Linked DNA regions of Homo sapiens: region 2 is linked to region 1. Evidence: fine-mapped expression QTL. A gene starts in region 1. The other region holds a variant in brackets. All regions are shown on one strand. Distances are between the middles of the regions.

Region 1 (8,326 bases):
CACCTCCTGCCTCCTCTCCCCAGGTGGGCCGAGCACCCCACAGATGGAGCCCATGTCCCTGCATGCGGTCAGCCGAAGGGTGTGAAAGGTGAAAAAGGGCCCTGTCCCCTGCACTCTGCCAGAGGCGGGGCCTGGACACGCTGCAGCACCCACTGGCCCAGGAGCCCTGAAGGCAGCCCTGGTGGGAAGAGGGTCTCCTGAATCGGCCTGGCAGGTGCAGGAGTCTGGGGAATCTGAGCCAGACAAGGAGGCCAGGGGTCGCTTCTGTACCCTCAGCTCCTAGCAGGGGCAGGCAAGGGCTCCAGAGACCGTTAGCCCAACCTCAACTCTCCAGGGACAGAGGTGAGGCCCAGATTGAGAGGGTCTGCCCGGGTGAGCCAGAGGCAAGGGGATTAGAAGCCACTCCCTTGACCTTCACCCAATATGCCAGCAGGGTCCCACCCTGCCTGGTGGGTCAGTCCCTCGGGGACCCTGAACACCCAGGCATTCATCCCACACATAATTACTGGGCACCTACCACGTGCCGGGCTCTGCTCCAGGAGCTGGGAAGCTGAGCGGGCCCAGGCAGAATGCCCCCTCTGTAATAAACAGAATAACAGATGGTATCTGCGGTGGGGTGGGGCCTCTTCACCCTTGGGGCCCCGAGAGGGTCCTTGCTCAACAGTGCCCCGTTGTCTCAGGGGATGGTCCAAGGCTCTTAGCCTGGCTAGCACCGGCCCACACACCCCACAGCTCGCTGCCACGTTGTGCTTCTGGCCCCACTGGCCATCCGCACTACCCACTGGCTCGCAGCCTCACCGGCTCACCGGGACCTCTGGGTGGAGTGTCGGCCACGCTCTGTGGGCATGCGTCCTCACAGGTGCGTATCTCAGTATCCTGGACACCAAATGCTTCGTCCACCACTGGACCTGGGGACCGAGCAGGGTGGCTCAGGGGACACTAGCTGGGACCATCTTTCACCCCTTGCTGGAGTCCAGTCCCCCAGGGTCGGCTGACATCTCCAAGATCCCAGCCCACTGGAAAGCACGTGATAACCCCAGGTGCCAGGTCCAGGCTGGCCGTGGGCCCCCAACAGCTGGGCGGATTCTGAGGGCAAGGTGTGGACCCCCAGCAGCTGGGCAGATTCTGAGGGCAAGGGTGTCTGTCTGCTCGGGCTTCTGTGTTCAGGCTTAGAACCCCCTCAGATGAAGGGCTCTAAATGGGCGGGAAGGTGGGGCTGAGGGGGCAGCCACTCATTTGTGGCCATCAGGCAGATCCAGCTTCGGGGAGGTTCCGCAAGGGCCAAGGTCCTGATATATTTGGTTACAGAAAAGGTGGGAATTCCAATCCCGCCCGCCGAGAACCACAGAACCTCACTGCCTCTGTAAAGCGGGGTTGGGCCCATCTACCTCGCAGGGAGCTGGGAGGAGAAAACGCACCCTGGGTGAGAGCATGGGGAAGCATCCTTCATTTGGGTCCAAGCTCAGATGCCACCTTCTTGGAGGGACCTTCCTGCGGAGGTCGCTGTTGAGCACATCCCCTGGCTCCATTTCCTGTGTGACTTGGACCTGCCTTAAATGATTTGTCCCAATATCCCTTTCCTACTTACAGCGACCGCACCTCCCGCCTGGCTGTGTGCTCCAGAGCATCTGGGGAATGACCGGGCCCTCCCCTCCAACAGGCCTAATTCAGTCCCCCATGCCAGGCAGGACCAGGGCACACGAGAATGGTGAAGTCCTGGGGCAACTGTCACCATGGCCTCTGCAGGCTCAGTGTCGGGAGACCCAGTTTCTGACCTGGATACACTGCTCACCTTTGAGGTCGGGGCCTAGAGGGACGGTGCCACGTTGGAGACAGGCCTCCAGGGACAGTGCCACGTTGAAGACGGGGTTCCAGGGACGGTGCCACGTTAGAGATGGGGTTCCAGGGACAGTGCCACGTTGAAGACGGGGTTCCAGGGACGGTGCCACGTTGGAGATGGGGTTCCAGGGATGGTGCCACATTGGAGATGGGCAAGTCTGGGCTAAGGGAGGAGGGCCCAGGGTGGCCAGGGCAGGGCCCAGTGAGGTGCTGCTCTGAGGAGGTGGAGAGTGGGCGCTTGGGCAGGGGACACTTGGAGAGTAAGGATGAGGTCCATCTGGGTACCCTGGGTATAGGGAGTGTTGTTGAAAAAAAGCCAAACACTATAAAATATTTGAAGATATTTATTCTGAGCAAATGTGAGGACTATGACCTGTGAAACCACCTCAGCAGGTCCTGAGAATATGTGAGCAAGGTGGCTGGGTAACAGCTTGGCTTTATACTTTTTTTTAAAATTTTCAGGTCTTTTCTGTAGAGACAGGGTCTCACCATGTTGCCCAGGCTGATCTCAAGCTCTTCAGCTCAAGCAATGCTCCCACCTTGGCCTCCGAGTATGCTGGGATTATAGGCAACAGTCACCATGCCCGGCCTGGTTTTACGGATTTTACAGAGACAGATGTTACAGGCCAAAACCATAAATCAACATATGTAAGATATACATTGGTTCAGCCTAGAAACAGGGTTGGCAGGGGCAGCTTCCAGGTCATAGGGGATTCAAAGATTTCCTGATTGGCAAGTGGTTGAAAGAGTTATGTTTTGCCTAAAGAGTTAAAGTGGGATTACTCACGCCTGTAATCCCAGCACTTTGGAAGGCTGAGGCAGGCAGATCACCTGAGGTCAGGAGTTCGAGACCAGCCTGGCCAACATGGTGAAACACCATCTCTACTAAAAATACAAAACATATATACACATATACATGTATATATATATACACATATACATGTATATATATACACATATACATGTATATATATACACATATACATGTATATATATACACATATACATGTATATATATACACATATACATGTATATATATACACATATATACACATATACATGTATATATACACATATATACACATATACATATATGTATATACATATATAGTGTATATATATACGTATATATATGTGTATATATACACTATATATGTGTGTGTGTGTATATATATATATACATACGTGTGTGTATATATACATATTAGCCAGGCGTGGTAGCACGCGCCTGTAATCCCAGCTACTTAGGAGGCTGAGGCAGGAGAATCGCTTGAACCCAGGAGGTAGAGGTTGCAGTGAGCCGAGATCATGCCACTGCACTCCAGCCTGGGCCACAGAGCGAGATTCTGTCTCAAAAAAAAAAAAAAAAAAAAAAGAGTTGACGTGAGTGGACAAAAGGTGCCCGACCTCCTAAGGGAAGGAGCTTCTCTAGAAAACGCGAATTTCGCCCCCTCAAGAGACAGCTGTGCAGTGCCATATCAAAACATGTGAAAGGAATGTATTTTAGGGTGGAATACTTTGCCTGCCTTCGGGCCTGCTGTCTGCCACGTGAGGCTGTGCCAGTGTGAGGCTGGAATTTGGGATCTGGAGGCTAGAGCCATCGGTGAGGCCTGAGTCTCTAAGCACAGCGCCCAGAGGGAGAGGGCGGAGCGGGTCCGACCCCCTTTGCGGCAGGGCCTGAGCTGGTTTTCCAGGTTTCTCTGGAAGCCCTGTAGAGGAGCGGAGGGTCCATTCGGTGGGCTGGGGACTTTGAATTTAACCTTGGTTTGCAAGAGGCTTCCAGAGAGGATGTCTGGGAGCGTCTCGGAGGGGGACGAGGGGGCGCCGGGAGGAGCAGGTGCAGGAGCCCACGGCGCAGCGCCCCGCGCAGGCCTGGACGCGGGGACGGCCGCGGCGGCCGGGACAGGGGTCACCCCGCGGGGCCCTCCAGGGTGGGCCGCCCCACGACCCCAGGCCAGGCCGAAACGGGAATCCTCCAGACCCCAGAAGCTGGGCCGGGCTGACCCCGCGGGCGCGAGCGGCGGGAACTGTAGGCGCGGCAGGCGCACCACCACCCCGCCCCCCGCCCGGGCGCTGTGCGCGTGCGCCGAGGTTGCCCCGCCCAGGCCAGGCCCCGCTCCGCCCCGCCCCGCGCACGCCGGCCGCGCCCACGTGACCGGTCCGGGTGCAAACACGCGGGTCAGCTGATCCGGCCCAACTGCGGCGTCATCCCGGCTATAAGCGCACGGCCTCGGCGACCCTCTCCGACCCGGCCGCCGCCGCCATGCAGCCCTCCAGCCTTCTGCCGCTCGCCCTCTGCCTGCTGGCTGCACCCGCCTCCGCGCTCGTCAGGTGAAGCCTCAGGGGCCGGGGCTCAGGGACGGGCAGGGGTCGCGGCGCCGAGGTCCCGGGGCCTGTGGTGACTTTCGCGCTCCCCTGTGGCCCCCACGAGCCCCTTGCGCCCCCCGCGCTGGAATGCACCTGTGCCGCCCTGCGCGGCCTCCTGCACGGACCACCCGCCTACGGGGCGCCGGGCTCCGGAGGTGCAGGGGACCCGGGGCAGAGGCGCCAGATGCCTCTCCCCCATATGCCACCCTGGGTTGTACCTTGAGGACTGCAGACTGACCGCAGCCTCCCTGGAGACGGGGCGGGGCGGGGGGAGGTAGTGCTCATTCGGGGCAGGTGGAATTGGGGTCTGTACTGAGCGCCCTTGTTGCTGGAGACCTAGGTCAGGCCTCAGAGCCCCCGAGTCTGGGCGAGTCCATTTCCTTAGGGACCCCTTTACCACCTGTGAACTGGGGGCTTTAAAAGTTTGCTCCAGCGGCTCTTATCACAGGCCCTGGGCTGGGAGACCCCTCGAGACCCTAGGAGTTCCCATGTCCCTGAGAGAGGAGGAGGCATGGGGAGTGGGTCGGCTCACCCACCCCGGGCCTGGGGTTGTGCTGTAGTGAGGCCCACACGCTCCTCAGGCCGATCCCCTGTGCCAGGTGAGGCCACCGATTGGGCCTGGATGGGATGGGGCCCGGCCATGCCTGACCAGCTGGGCAGAGGAGGGCCATGCTGCAGTCTGCTTTCTTGACCCCCTCCCCAGCCCTTGCAAGGCAGCCCGCATTCCCAGGAGGGGTATGCTGACCCATCCCATTGGGCACCTGCCCCACCCTTGCTCTGGGCCTTTGTGGGAGACCTGGGATCTGCGATGGGTCCACTGCCTTTTGGCAGGTGGGTGAGGTCAGAAGGCTGCAGGGGCTGGAGCTGGCTGGGCCAGCTGGGTAGGACTGAGCCTCACCAAAGGCTGTGGGGAATGGCCCGGGGGCGGGTAGCCCCAATTAAAGTCGTTGTGGGGGAGTAGCCACAAGCCTGAGCCTGCCTTGACCTTGCCAGCCTATCCACAGGCCTCCCCTCTCCAAGGAGGACAGACACAGCAGAGGGGAAACGATCCTGGGGCTTCTTGGAGGGAAGGGTAGCTGAATCCAAGCCCTCACCCGATTCCAGCTCTTGTGCGACTGATACTATTACACCTGCTTCCTGGTCCCTGGAGGGCGTGTCCCTCCCCCAGGACAAAACCTGGAGCTCTTCCAGCCCACCAGCTCTTAGGCAATAATCTCATCTTCCGGGATCACGCCCCTGACAAGCCAGGAAAAGCCAGCTATGACCTTGTACTCTCAAGTCCCTGGGGCAGGGAAGAGGTTTTATTTAAGTGATTAAAAGCCCAGGGGAGCTTCCTTGGAACAAGGAGTGGGTTCACACCAAGGGGAAGGCCAGTGGCCCTGGGGGAGGAGCAGGGACCCCTCTCTCTCTTACTCGCTTCCTGGGTTTAGAACTCAGGACCCCGATCTCAGTCTGGAGCTCCCTCCTGCACCCTGGCTGGCGGTGTGCTGGGTGACAGGACTCTGGAGGGGTACCCTGAGTGCAGCTGTCGGAGGAGGCAGGGCGGTGGGGGGGGCAGCACAGAAGCCTCTAAGGCCCCAGGTGCAGTCCTGGACCTCGTGGAGCCGCATGGAGTGAGGAGAGGTGCGGATGCCCAGAAACAGATGTGGGATGAGGGCACTGGGCAGCCACAGGGTCCATGTGGAGGAGGACAGGTAGTCAAGGAGGGCTTCTGGAGGTGGTGTGGAGGGCCCATCTGATGGCCAGAGGAGGCCAGGCAGAGCTGCCAGTGCCAGCCTGGAGGTGGGGCCACCTTCGTGCAGGTGTCTGGGGGTGGAGAGCAGGTGTGATGGGGGCTGGGTACAGTGGGCTGCCTCAGAGCACTTTGGGCAGGAGTGACAGGTACCCGCCAGCACCCTGAGCAGCCATGCTGGCCACCATCCTGGAAGAGACCAGCGCAGGTGCAGAGGGAGGACGGGAGACCCTTGGGGGCTTTGGAGCCTCCAGAATGGCTGAGGAGAGGAGGGTTGGGCACACTGGCCCCCAGGTTGGGTGTGTGGGGCTGAGGTGGGTGGCGGGTGACCACTTCTTAGGACTGTGGCCTGTGCAACCTGGCGGGGGGCAATGGGTTGCCATTCACTGACTTGGGGGAGCTGGGCCAGCAGTTTCCAGGTGACAGGCAGGAGTTTGGTTTTGGCTGTGGCGACTCTGAGATTCCCCAGGGGCCTCCAGGTGGATGTGCAGCATTGGCAGCGTCGGCCGGCAGGCGGGAGGGCCTCCCTGATATGCCCCGACCCGTGGTTGACAGGATCCCGCTGCACAAGTTCACGTCCATCCGCCGGACCATGTCGGAGGTTGGGGGCTCTGTGGAGGACCTGATTGCCAAAGGCCCCGTCTCAAAGTACTCCCAGGCGGTGCCAGCCGTGACCGAGGGGCCCATTCCCGAGGTGCTCAAGAACTACATGGACGTGAGTATGAGGTCTTAGCCCTGCTGCAAGCGGAGCCACTGTCAGGAGAGCTCCGTGGCAGTATGGGGAACATTCCCACCTCCTGTTCTCAGCAGCGCAGTTTGAGTGGCTCACCTGGCCACGGTGGCGTCCCGGCTCAGCCACACTCCTTTCTTCCCCATTCTGGAACCTCCTGCCACTGGCCCCTGTCATTGCAGGGTCTTGGTCCTGCTAGGGCCTGGGAGGGTGATTGGGAGTGGCCTCGGGCCTTGGTGCCAGCTCGCCTGAGGGGGCGGTCCTTGGGCCTGCCTGAGTGTGGCCGGCTGACCTGGAGCCTTTCACTGCTGTCCTGCTGGGAGGCCTGTGGTGACTCGTGGCCTCCCCAGCCCCTCCCCATCTTCTTCCTCTCGCAACAGCCCCTCCTGTGCCCACTACTCCTTCAGGGGGAAGCAGGATCCAAGGTGGAGCACTCTGGAAGCCACCTAGCAAGCTGGGGCTTGGTCAGCCTGGTCCCAGCTCTATGGGGTCAGTTCGAGGCCAGGGCCTACTGTCCAGCCTCGGGGCTCTGGCCCACTGTGGGGGAGCCTTGCCCTCTGTCCTGCTTGGCCCGAGTCCTGGCTGTGACAGGAAGCCCAAGACTCACAGGCATGTGACTGGGCCAGGGGGGCCCTGGGGGGAACCAGGCGCCGTGTGCCTGGTCCCGACTGGCCAGTTCCTGATTGTCCTAGCGCGCGAGCAAGCAGATGCACGCATGCGCACACATGCACACACACACATGGAAATTTGCTGAGTGTCCCCCTGCCAGTGGTCACTTCTGTGGGGCCATGAGTCAGCAGCTGCTGCTGCTCCGTGAAGCCAGGCGGTTGGAGAAACATTGGGCTGGGCTGGTGCCAGGAATCTGGTGGCTGACGGTGGCCCAGGCTCCAATCCTGGGGGAAGCGGGCGCCCAGGCGACCCCAAACTCCAGGACCCTCTTACTCTCTGCCTCCTGAGAGGCTCGGCGGCATGGGACCCCTTGTACTTGCCTGATCCCTGAGTCAGCACCCCCACCTGCGCCTGCTATCCCTGTGTACACACGGGGAAACTGAGGCCCTGGGCCATTAAGGCAGGGTTGCTGGGCAGGCAGTGATTGTAAGGCTTACCTTCTCCCCTTGACCAGCTGAACCCCTCTGCCTGGAAGCCCTCCAAGCCTGGGGTTCACCCTGGAGGGCAGGGCAGGCACTGAGACACCCAGAATCAGACCTTGACATGGCCCCAACCTGGGGAGGAAGTCACTTCCTTTCTCAGACCTTGGACTGCGGGCCACCAGGGGAGTCTTCCAGGCCGGGCTTTCCTGCACCCGGGGCTCAGGCTGAGGGCCACGTCTGTCCCCACCCTGGCTTGACCTCTGGCCTTGTCTTTTCCGTGGGGAAGTCCTCAGCCTCACCATGTATTGAGCAGGGGTAGGTGACAGAAGCCAGGGGTCTAGAGACCCCAAGTACCCGTGGGCATTAGGACCGAGGGCTGGGGACCTGGCCCATCTTCCCTGCAGGCTGAGCAGGTGGGAGTGGGTGGCTGTTGGCAGCTGTGGGCCCCGTGATGCCCCTCCCTCCAGTATGGGCCTTGGCTCTGGGGACAGCCGGGCCTTCTGAGGCCCAGTGGGGAGATGGGGCCCCCTCTCCCATCCCTGACGGACCCTGTCCCCTGCCAGGCC
Region 2 (8,326 bases), 23 kb before region 1:
AACGTAGGATAAAGTTTGATTGACTCTGGGTTTGGTGATGACTTTTTTTGTTTCATTTTAAGATCCAGTCTCGCCCTGTTGCCCAGGCAGGAATGCAGTGGTGTGATGGTAGCTCACTGTAGCCTCAACCTCCTGAGCTTAAGTGATCCTCCCACCTCAGTCTCCCGAGCAGCTAGGACCACAGGCATGCACCACCATGCCCAGCTGATGAGGAACTTTTTAGATACAGGACCAAAAATATGGCCCATGAAAAAAGATGTGATAAGTTGGACTTATTAAAATTATAAACTTCTGCGGTGTAAAAGACACTGCTGAGAGAATGGAGTCACAAGGCACAGACTGGGAGAACATTTTGGTCAAACACATGTCTGATAACGACCTTGAATCCAAAATACATGAAGAACCCTTAAAATTCAGTAACTTAAAAAAGTCCGTGTAAGACGGTGCAAAAGGTACAAGCAGATGTCCTCCACCCCCAGAGAGGATCGACAGATGGGAAATAGGCATATGTTTAGCAAATCAAACCCCAAAATCTATAAAAAGGATAATACTCATGACCAAGTGAGATTTATCCTGGGAATGCCAGGTTATTTTATGATGTTTTAAAACTCAACGAGGGCCGGGCGCGGTGGCTCACACCTGTAATCCCAGCACTTTGGGAGGCCGAGGCGGGTGGATCACGAGGTCAGGAGATCGAGACCATCCTGGCTAACACGGTGAAACCCCGTCTCTGCTAAAAGCAAAAAAATACAAAAAATTAGCCGGTTATGGTGGCGGGCACCTGTGATCCCAGCTACTCGGGAGGCTGAGGCAGGAGAATGGCGTGAACCCGGGAGGTGGAGCTTGCAGTGAGCCGAGACTGTGCCACTGCACTCCAGCCTGGGCAACAGAGTGAGACTCTGCCTCAAAAAATATATAAATAAATAAAAATAAAAAAAATAAAAAACCTCAATGAATTTAATTCACCATATTAACAGACTGAAAAAGAAAATGCCTGTGAACATCTCCACAGGTTCAGAAAAAGCTTTTCACAAAATCCAGTATCCATTCCTGATCAAAACTCCCAGCAAACAGAGAAGAAAAGGAAATGTCCTCATCCTGATTTTAAAAAATAAAACTATAGAAAAACCTACAGCGAGCATCATCCTGAATGGTGAAAAAGGAATGTTCTTCTCCTACGGTCGGGAACAAGACAAGAATGTCTGCTCTCACGACTTCCATTCAACATTCACTGGGGTTTAGCCAGTGCAAAGAAAACAAAATTTATCCAGATTGAAAAGGAAACACAAACGTCTTTATTTTCCAAAGACATGATCATTGTTGAAGAAAAACCTACAAAATCTATGAGAAAGTTACTAAAACTGATAACTTAGTTTAGCAGGGTTGTAGGATAGGTCAATGGACAAATATCAATTGTATTTCTATATAACAGCGACGAACATTCGAAGTTGATTTTATATTTTTTATTTTTTTTTTGAGAAGGAGTCTTGCCATGTCACCCAGGCTGCAGTGCAGTGGTACAATCTCAGCTCACTGCGACCTCCACCACCCGGGCTCCAGCAACTCTCCTGCCTCAGCCTTCTTAGTAGCTGGGATTACGGGTGTGCACTACCACGCCCAGCTAATTTTTGTATTTTTAGTAGGGAGGGGTTTCACCATATTGGCCAGGCTGGTCTTGAACTCTTGACCTCAGGTGCTCTGCCTGCCTTAGCCTCCCAAAGTGCTGGGATTACAGGCATGAGCCACTGTGCCTAGCCCAAAATTGATGTTTAAAACGGCCATTTAGAAGAAAATTGAAAATAGATATTTCAGGATAAATTTGACAAATATGTCCAAGACTTGTACTCTGACATTCTAAATACACTAAGCAAAAGTAAAATACTAAGCAAATGGAGAGAGATATACAGTGTTCATGGATAGAATCAATATTGTCAACATGTCAGTTGTTCCCAAAGTGATCTGTAGAATCAACCCAATCCAAATCAAAATCTCAAGACAGTTTTTTTTTGTTTTTTTTTTTTAGAAATGGGCAAGCTGATTTTTTTTTTTTTTTTTTTTTGAGACTGAGTCTCACTCTGTCGCCCAGGCTGGAGTGCAGTGGTGCGATCTCAGCTCACTGCAAGCTCTGCCTCCCAGGTTCATGCCAGTCTCCTGCCTCAGCCTCCCAAGTAGCTGGGACTACAGGCGCCTGCCACCATGCCCGGCTAAGTTTTTTGTATTTTTAGTAGAGACGGGGTTTCACCATGTTAGCCAAGATGGTCTCAATCTCCTGACCTTGTGATCCGCCTGCCTCGGCCTCCCAAAGTGCTGGGATTACAGGTGTGAGCCACCACACCAGGCATGGACAAGCTGATTTTAAAATGTGTATCAAAATACAAAATATCTAAAATAACTAAAATCAGGCCAGGCATGGTGGCTCACGCCTGTAATCCCAGCACTTTGGGAGGCTGAGGCGGGTGGATCACCTGAGGTCAGGAGCTCAAGACAAGCCTGGCCAACATAGTGGAACCCTGTCTCTACTAAAAATACAAAAATTAGCCTGGTGTGGTGGCGTGCACCTGTAATCCCTGCTACTCAGGAGGCTGAGGCAGGAGAATCACTTAAAACTGGGAGGCGGAGGTTGTAGTGAGCCGAGATGGGGCCACTGCACTCCAGCCTGGGTGACAGAGGGAGACTTTGTCTCAAAAAATAATAATAATAATAATAGTTAAGGCTGTACAGTGCTGGTATAAAGACACACAAATAGATAAATGGGTCAGAATAGAGTGCCCAGAAATAGATCCACATGCGTATGGACAACTGAATTCAACCAAATTGCCAAGGCAATTAAATGAAGAAAAGGCTTTTCAACAAATGATGTTGGAACAACTGGATAGTCATAACAATGAACTCCAACCCTTACCTCACGTGATACACAAAAACTAACTCAAAATGGATGATAGGCCTTATTGGAAGAGATAAAGCTATAACACTTCTAACAGAAAACATAGGTGAAAATCTTACTGATCTTGAGTGTAGCAAAGATTTATTAAACACAACAAACACTGTTAAAGGAAAAAAAAAGAAAAGGAAAGGCTGGGTGCGGTTGCTCATGCCTGTAATCCCAGCACTTTGGGAGGCCAAGGCAGGCGGATCATGTGAGGTCAGGAGTTCAAGACCAGCCTGGCCAACATGGAGAAACCCCATCTCTACTAAAATACAAAAATTAGCCGTGCATGGTGGTGGGCGCCTGTAGTCCCAGCTACTTGGGAGGCTGAGGCAGGAGAATCGCTTGAACCCAGGAGGCGTCGGTTGCAGTGAGCCGAGATCGTGCCATTGCACTCTAGCCTGGGCAACAGAATGAGACTCCATCTCAAAAAAAAAAAAAAAATTGCCCACATATCTTCCATGCAACCCAGCAAACCCACTCCTAGATATTTACACAAGAGAAGCAAAAGCAGGTGTCAACACAGACTTGTATGTGAGTGTTCCTAGCAGCTTCACTTGTAATAGCCAAAAACTGGAATCCTCCCAAAATGCCATGAACAGTTAGATGGAGAAACAGATTGTGCCTGTGATGGAACACTATTCTGCAATCATAATGAAGGAGGTATTGATTGCGATAGGCAGAACAATGGTCCCCCAAAAGATGCTCATGCCCTAATCCCTGGAAGCTGGGAATATATTAGGTTTATGCTGAAGGGGAATTAAGGTTGCAGAGGGAATTAAGGTTGCTAAGCAGCTGACCTTAAATAGAGAGATTATCCTGGATGATCTGAATAAGCAATGTGATCACAAGGTGCTTAAAAATGGAAGGAGGCAGAAGAGGAGGTCAGAGTGCCGGGATGTGGGAAGGACCAGCCCGGCCAATGCTGGCTTTGAAGATGGAGGTGGGCCGCCAGCCAAGGAATGCAGGCAGCCTTGGGAGCTGGAGGATCAGGGACATGGATTTTCCATCTGAGCCTCCAGAGAAAGCACAGTCATTCCTGTTGACACCTTGATTTTGGCCTAGGGAGACCCACTTCTTCAGAATTCCGGCCTCCAGAATTGTAAGGTTAATAGATTTGTGTTGTTTTAAGCCACTCACTGTGTGGCAATTTGTGACAGCAGCCGAGAGAAAGTGAACACATAGACACATGCATGACACAAATACATCTCAAAATAATCATGCTGAACACACTGATATATGCAGTGACATGGTTACATCTTAAAATAATTACGCCGAGTGAAACAAACCAGAAAAAAAATAAGCACGTGCCGTCTGACTTCATCTATATAACGTTCTAGAAATGGAAACTCATCTACAGAAAGCAGAACAGTAGTTTTCTAGGAACCGGCAGGGTTGGG[G/T]GTGGGGAAGAGGGGGGAACAGGGAGGGATGGTCAACGTGTCACAGCGGAGGCTGTGGAGGGAAGCTCATGATCTCGACCGCGGAGATGCGTTCAACAGTGTGCACAGGTCTCAAAATCGGTCAAGTGGCACACTTTAGGCAAATGCAGTTGATTGTCCATCTGTTATCCAGTCATTCGCCGGGTAACCACGGGGGAACGTGTCCTAAGGCAATTTCATGGTTGTGAGAACATTGCAGAGTGCACTTACACAAACCCAGATGGTGTGGCCTGCCACACACGCAGGCTGCACGGTACAGCCTACTGCTCCTAGGGGGCAGGCCTGCAGGGCTGGGCACTGTGCTGAATCCTGCAGGCAACACAATGGTAAGCATTTGTGTATCTAAACACAGAGAAGGCAGCTCATTGTGCTACAGCCTTAGGAGGCCTACGACGGCACTAGGCGACGGAAACTTTTCAACCCCGTTATAGTCAGACGGAACCGCCAGGGTCTAAGTAGCCCATTATACTTCAAATAAAATGATAAAAAGGCTGAGTGCTGTGACTTACACCTATAATCTTAGCACTCTGGGAGGCCGAGGAAGGAGGACTGCTTGAGACCAGGAGTTTGAGACCAACATGGACAACATAGTGAGACCCCGTCTGTACAAAAAATTAAATTAAAAAATTAGCCAAGCGTGGTGGTGCATGTCTGTGATCCCAGCTACTCAGGAGGCTGAGATGGGAGGATCACTTGAGCTCAGGAGGTTAAGGCTGCAGTGAACTATGATCACAGCACTGCACTCCACTCTGGGCGATAGAGGGAGACCTTGTCTCCAAAAAAAAAAAAAAAAAAAAGGTAAAAAACAGTTTTAACCACTTAAGCTGGCAACAGTAAAAATGGGGTCAGATGGTTCAAAAGAAGTGCACCAGAGGTTGATTTGGGCTACGGGGAGACCCAGCCTCATTGAGGGACTGGGGAGGCTCCTCTGGGAGCAGCATCTGGGGCCGGATCTGTGGGACAGTAGCAGTCAGTGCACTGGGAGGAGGCGTCCGCAGACAGCGAGCTGGGCAGAGGGTCAGCGCTCGCTGGGCAGAGGCCACGTGGGGAAGAGTTCCTGGGGTGAGCGGGCGCCACCAAGGTCAGCAGGGGACCAAGACCACAAGGGACCTTGGGCCCCAGAACTCTGTTCCCGTAGCCAAGTGCGCTGGAAATCACAGAGAGTCCCGGGGCAGAGCAATGGGATCAGACAAGCCTTTAAACGAGTACCTCTGCCGACTGCACCATGGTGAGCAAACCGTAAGGGCCCCAGCTCTGCAGAGGAGAGAGGATGGGTGGGCCCAGGTGGGCACCTGCCAGGAGAAGGGGTCTGGGAGAAGCGGGGTTGGGAAGGTGCGGTGTTTGTGGTGAGAAGGGAGTTAAATCACTGTCTGAGACGGAAACAACACAGAGGGGGTGCCAGTCCGCCTGCCAGGGTGCCGGTGAGTGCAGGGAGAATCTGCTGCAAGGCCTGGCTACCTCGGGATGTGGGCATGAAAGCCAGGCAGAGGGTACTGGGGCCCTGTTAGGGGTTCAGTCACGTCCCCCAAAATTCATGTGTTGAAGCCCTGATCCCCAGGACCTCAGAATGCAGCTGTATTTGGAGATGGGTCTTTACAGAGGTGAACAAGTTAAAACGAGGTCTTCAGGGTGGGCCCTAATCCCATAGGCCTGGTGTCCTTGTAAAAAGTGGAAATTAGGACACAGATGCACACAGAGGTGTGGCCCTGTGGGGACACAGGGAGAAGGAGGCCCCAGGAGAAGCCAGCCCTGCCCACACCTTGATCTCAGACTCCAGCCTCCAGAATGTGAAAAAATCGATGTCTGTTGTTTAACCTGCGCAGTCTGTGGTCTCTGTTCGGGCAGCTCTAAGCAAATTCACCCGCTGCTTTTCCGAACGAACCTCCGAGAGCTAGCTGAGTCCATCGCTAAGTCCATGTATAACTCTGCGGTGGGCCCATCGGAGCTGGGGACCAGGAGGACCCTGCTGATCCTGGGCGGCCGATGGTGATGCGGCAAAGGTGGCAGGAACGGATGTGGGTGGGGAGGAGGGACAGCGTCCTGAGCACGGCAGACAGCCAGGGTCAGCTGGGAGAATTGGGGTTCATTTGGGGTGGAGCGTGGGTGGGGCCAGCAAGAGCCTGCAGCACAGGACGCAGGGCCACCCTCAGGCCCTTGTGGATGCTGCTTGTGTCTCTGGGCCCAGGGACGAGGCCGCTGAGGCTGCCTCTGGCGGTGCTGCCCACCTCAGACTGGGATGTGCCAGGCAGCCTGAGTGTGGGGTGCTGTGGGGGAGCCACCAGAGTCATCAGCCCCAGCTCTGCTCTCACCAGCGGCTGGGAAGGGAGAGACGGCCACTCTCATCTCCTCCCCCAGTGAGGGAGTGGGTGGAACCTCTGTGGAGATGCCTGCTGGGCATCTTGGTTCCCTCCTCTGCCTGGAGGGCAGGTGCGGCTGGGCCCCGGGCCAAGGACTCCTGAGTCTGGACCTGGGGGCTCTGCTTAGTGACCAAGCTAGGGAGGATAAAAACAGGAGCCAGAGGGGCCTGGGAGAGCTGAGGAAGAGTGACCACCAGGGCCCAGCCAGGGATGGGGGCTGTGGGGGCCTAGGGCCAGAGCAGGCTGGGGGCCCTGGGCTGGGAGGGGAGACTCCTGCCCACCACGTCACTTGGGATGGGTGGGAGCTCCAGCTTGGGTGCCAGGCACAGGGTGAAAATCCTGACTCCGTGACTTCATGGCTGCTGGACCTGCCCTGCCTCTGTCTTCTTGCTGTGAAATGGGATCAAGTTTCTGTCTCTGTCAAAGGTGGAGCGGATGCCCCATCCTCAGCACTCTCCACACGACATTCTGCCAGGCGATGGGGTGGATACTTGGGGAGGTCCATGAGTCGGGGCTTAAGGCAGGAGAGGAACAAAGAGTGGAATACGTGGAGTGACTGCAGTCCCTGCGGTTGAGAGGTGCCCAGACGGCAGGACTTTCGGTTTTACAAAGGTCAGCTGGTCACCCGGCACAAGGTCTGTATTAGTCTCTGACTAATTAACTGCTGTGGCAGATTACACAAACACAGTGGCTTAAAGCAACGTAAATCTATCATCTTGCAGTTTGGGAGGTCACAAGTCCCACGTGGTTTTCAAGGAGCTAACATTAAGATGCCTGCAGGGCGGTTCCCTTCCGGAGCCTCTAAAAGCAAATCCATCTCTCCCTGTGTCTCCCATTCCCAGAGGCCGCCAGCATTCCCTGACTCACGGTCCCCTCCTCCGACTTCAAGTCCAGCAGTGGCATCTTCTAGTCTCCTGTGGCTCTGACCCTCCCCAGCTCCTATCCTGATGCTTGTGATTGCCCTGAGCCTGTCCGGATATTCCAGAACAATCTCCCATCCCATGTGCCTCGACTTAACCACATCTGGAGGCCCCTTTGTCACGTAGGTCCCGGTGATTAGAATGTAGACATCTTCGGGGACCCTTTTCAGCCCAGCAAAAGAACAAAGGATTGGGTAGCAGGAAGGGGCAGGGAAAGACGTGGAGGGGCCGTGGGCAGAGGCTGGGTACTATTGAGGGGTCCAGAGACAGGAGGATGGGGTGAAGGGGGACTCCTGCCCTGCTCCCTGGTGAGATGAGGGGCCTGGCTCCACTCGCCGCAGGCCGGACCCACAGAGGTCGGGAGATAATCCTGCTTTGCTGGGCATTGCGGCAAGCGCCTTCTCTTTCAGGGCAGGCAGTGGTGTGTGGCTGGCACCCCTGGGGCACTGGGGTTTTCCCAGATGAGGATACAGAGGAGGGGCATCCCTGGCCCAAGTATGAGCCACTGTGGGGAGGGGGCTGCTAGCTAGAACGGCATCCTGCCCATGGGGGAGTGTGGGGCGGGGACCAGAGCCCTCTGTCCACTAGGGCTGTGTCCAGGGCACAGGGGAGGAGGACCCACAACGACTGTAGGGGGACAGCAGGGACACCGCCCGTCACCCCAACAGGGATGTGACTTTTGCA

What was found. PIP is the estimated chance that this variant, and not a neighbour inherited with it, causes the effect.
Region 2: its variant is fine-mapped to the expression of CTSD in whole blood (TOPMed, PIP 0.92).

What each region holds. Positions count from the first base shown.
Region 1 is chr11:1,759,637-1,767,962 of GRCh38, reverse strand. It overlaps CTSD (cathepsin D), which reads left to right and starts at 4,036. Exons shown (of 9, transcript NM_001909.5): 1 at 4,036-4,171; 2 at 6,495-6,654; 3 at 8,324-8,326. The coding sequence starts at 4,104. PRADX (PRC2 and DDX5 associated lncRNA) reads right to left here and starts at 7,615. Exons shown (of 2, transcript NR_182291.1): 1 at 6,769-7,615; 2 at 5,477-6,644. RefSeq lists silencers at 3,657-4,126, 4,377-4,466.
Region 2 is chr11:1,782,184-1,790,509 of GRCh38, reverse strand. The region is part of intron 1 of LOC124902610 (a long non-coding RNA gene); the gene reads right to left. Among named protein-coding and RNA genes, the nearest start is that of CTSD, 22 kb to the right of the region's middle. The variant G/T (reference allele first, on the strand shown) is at 4,327.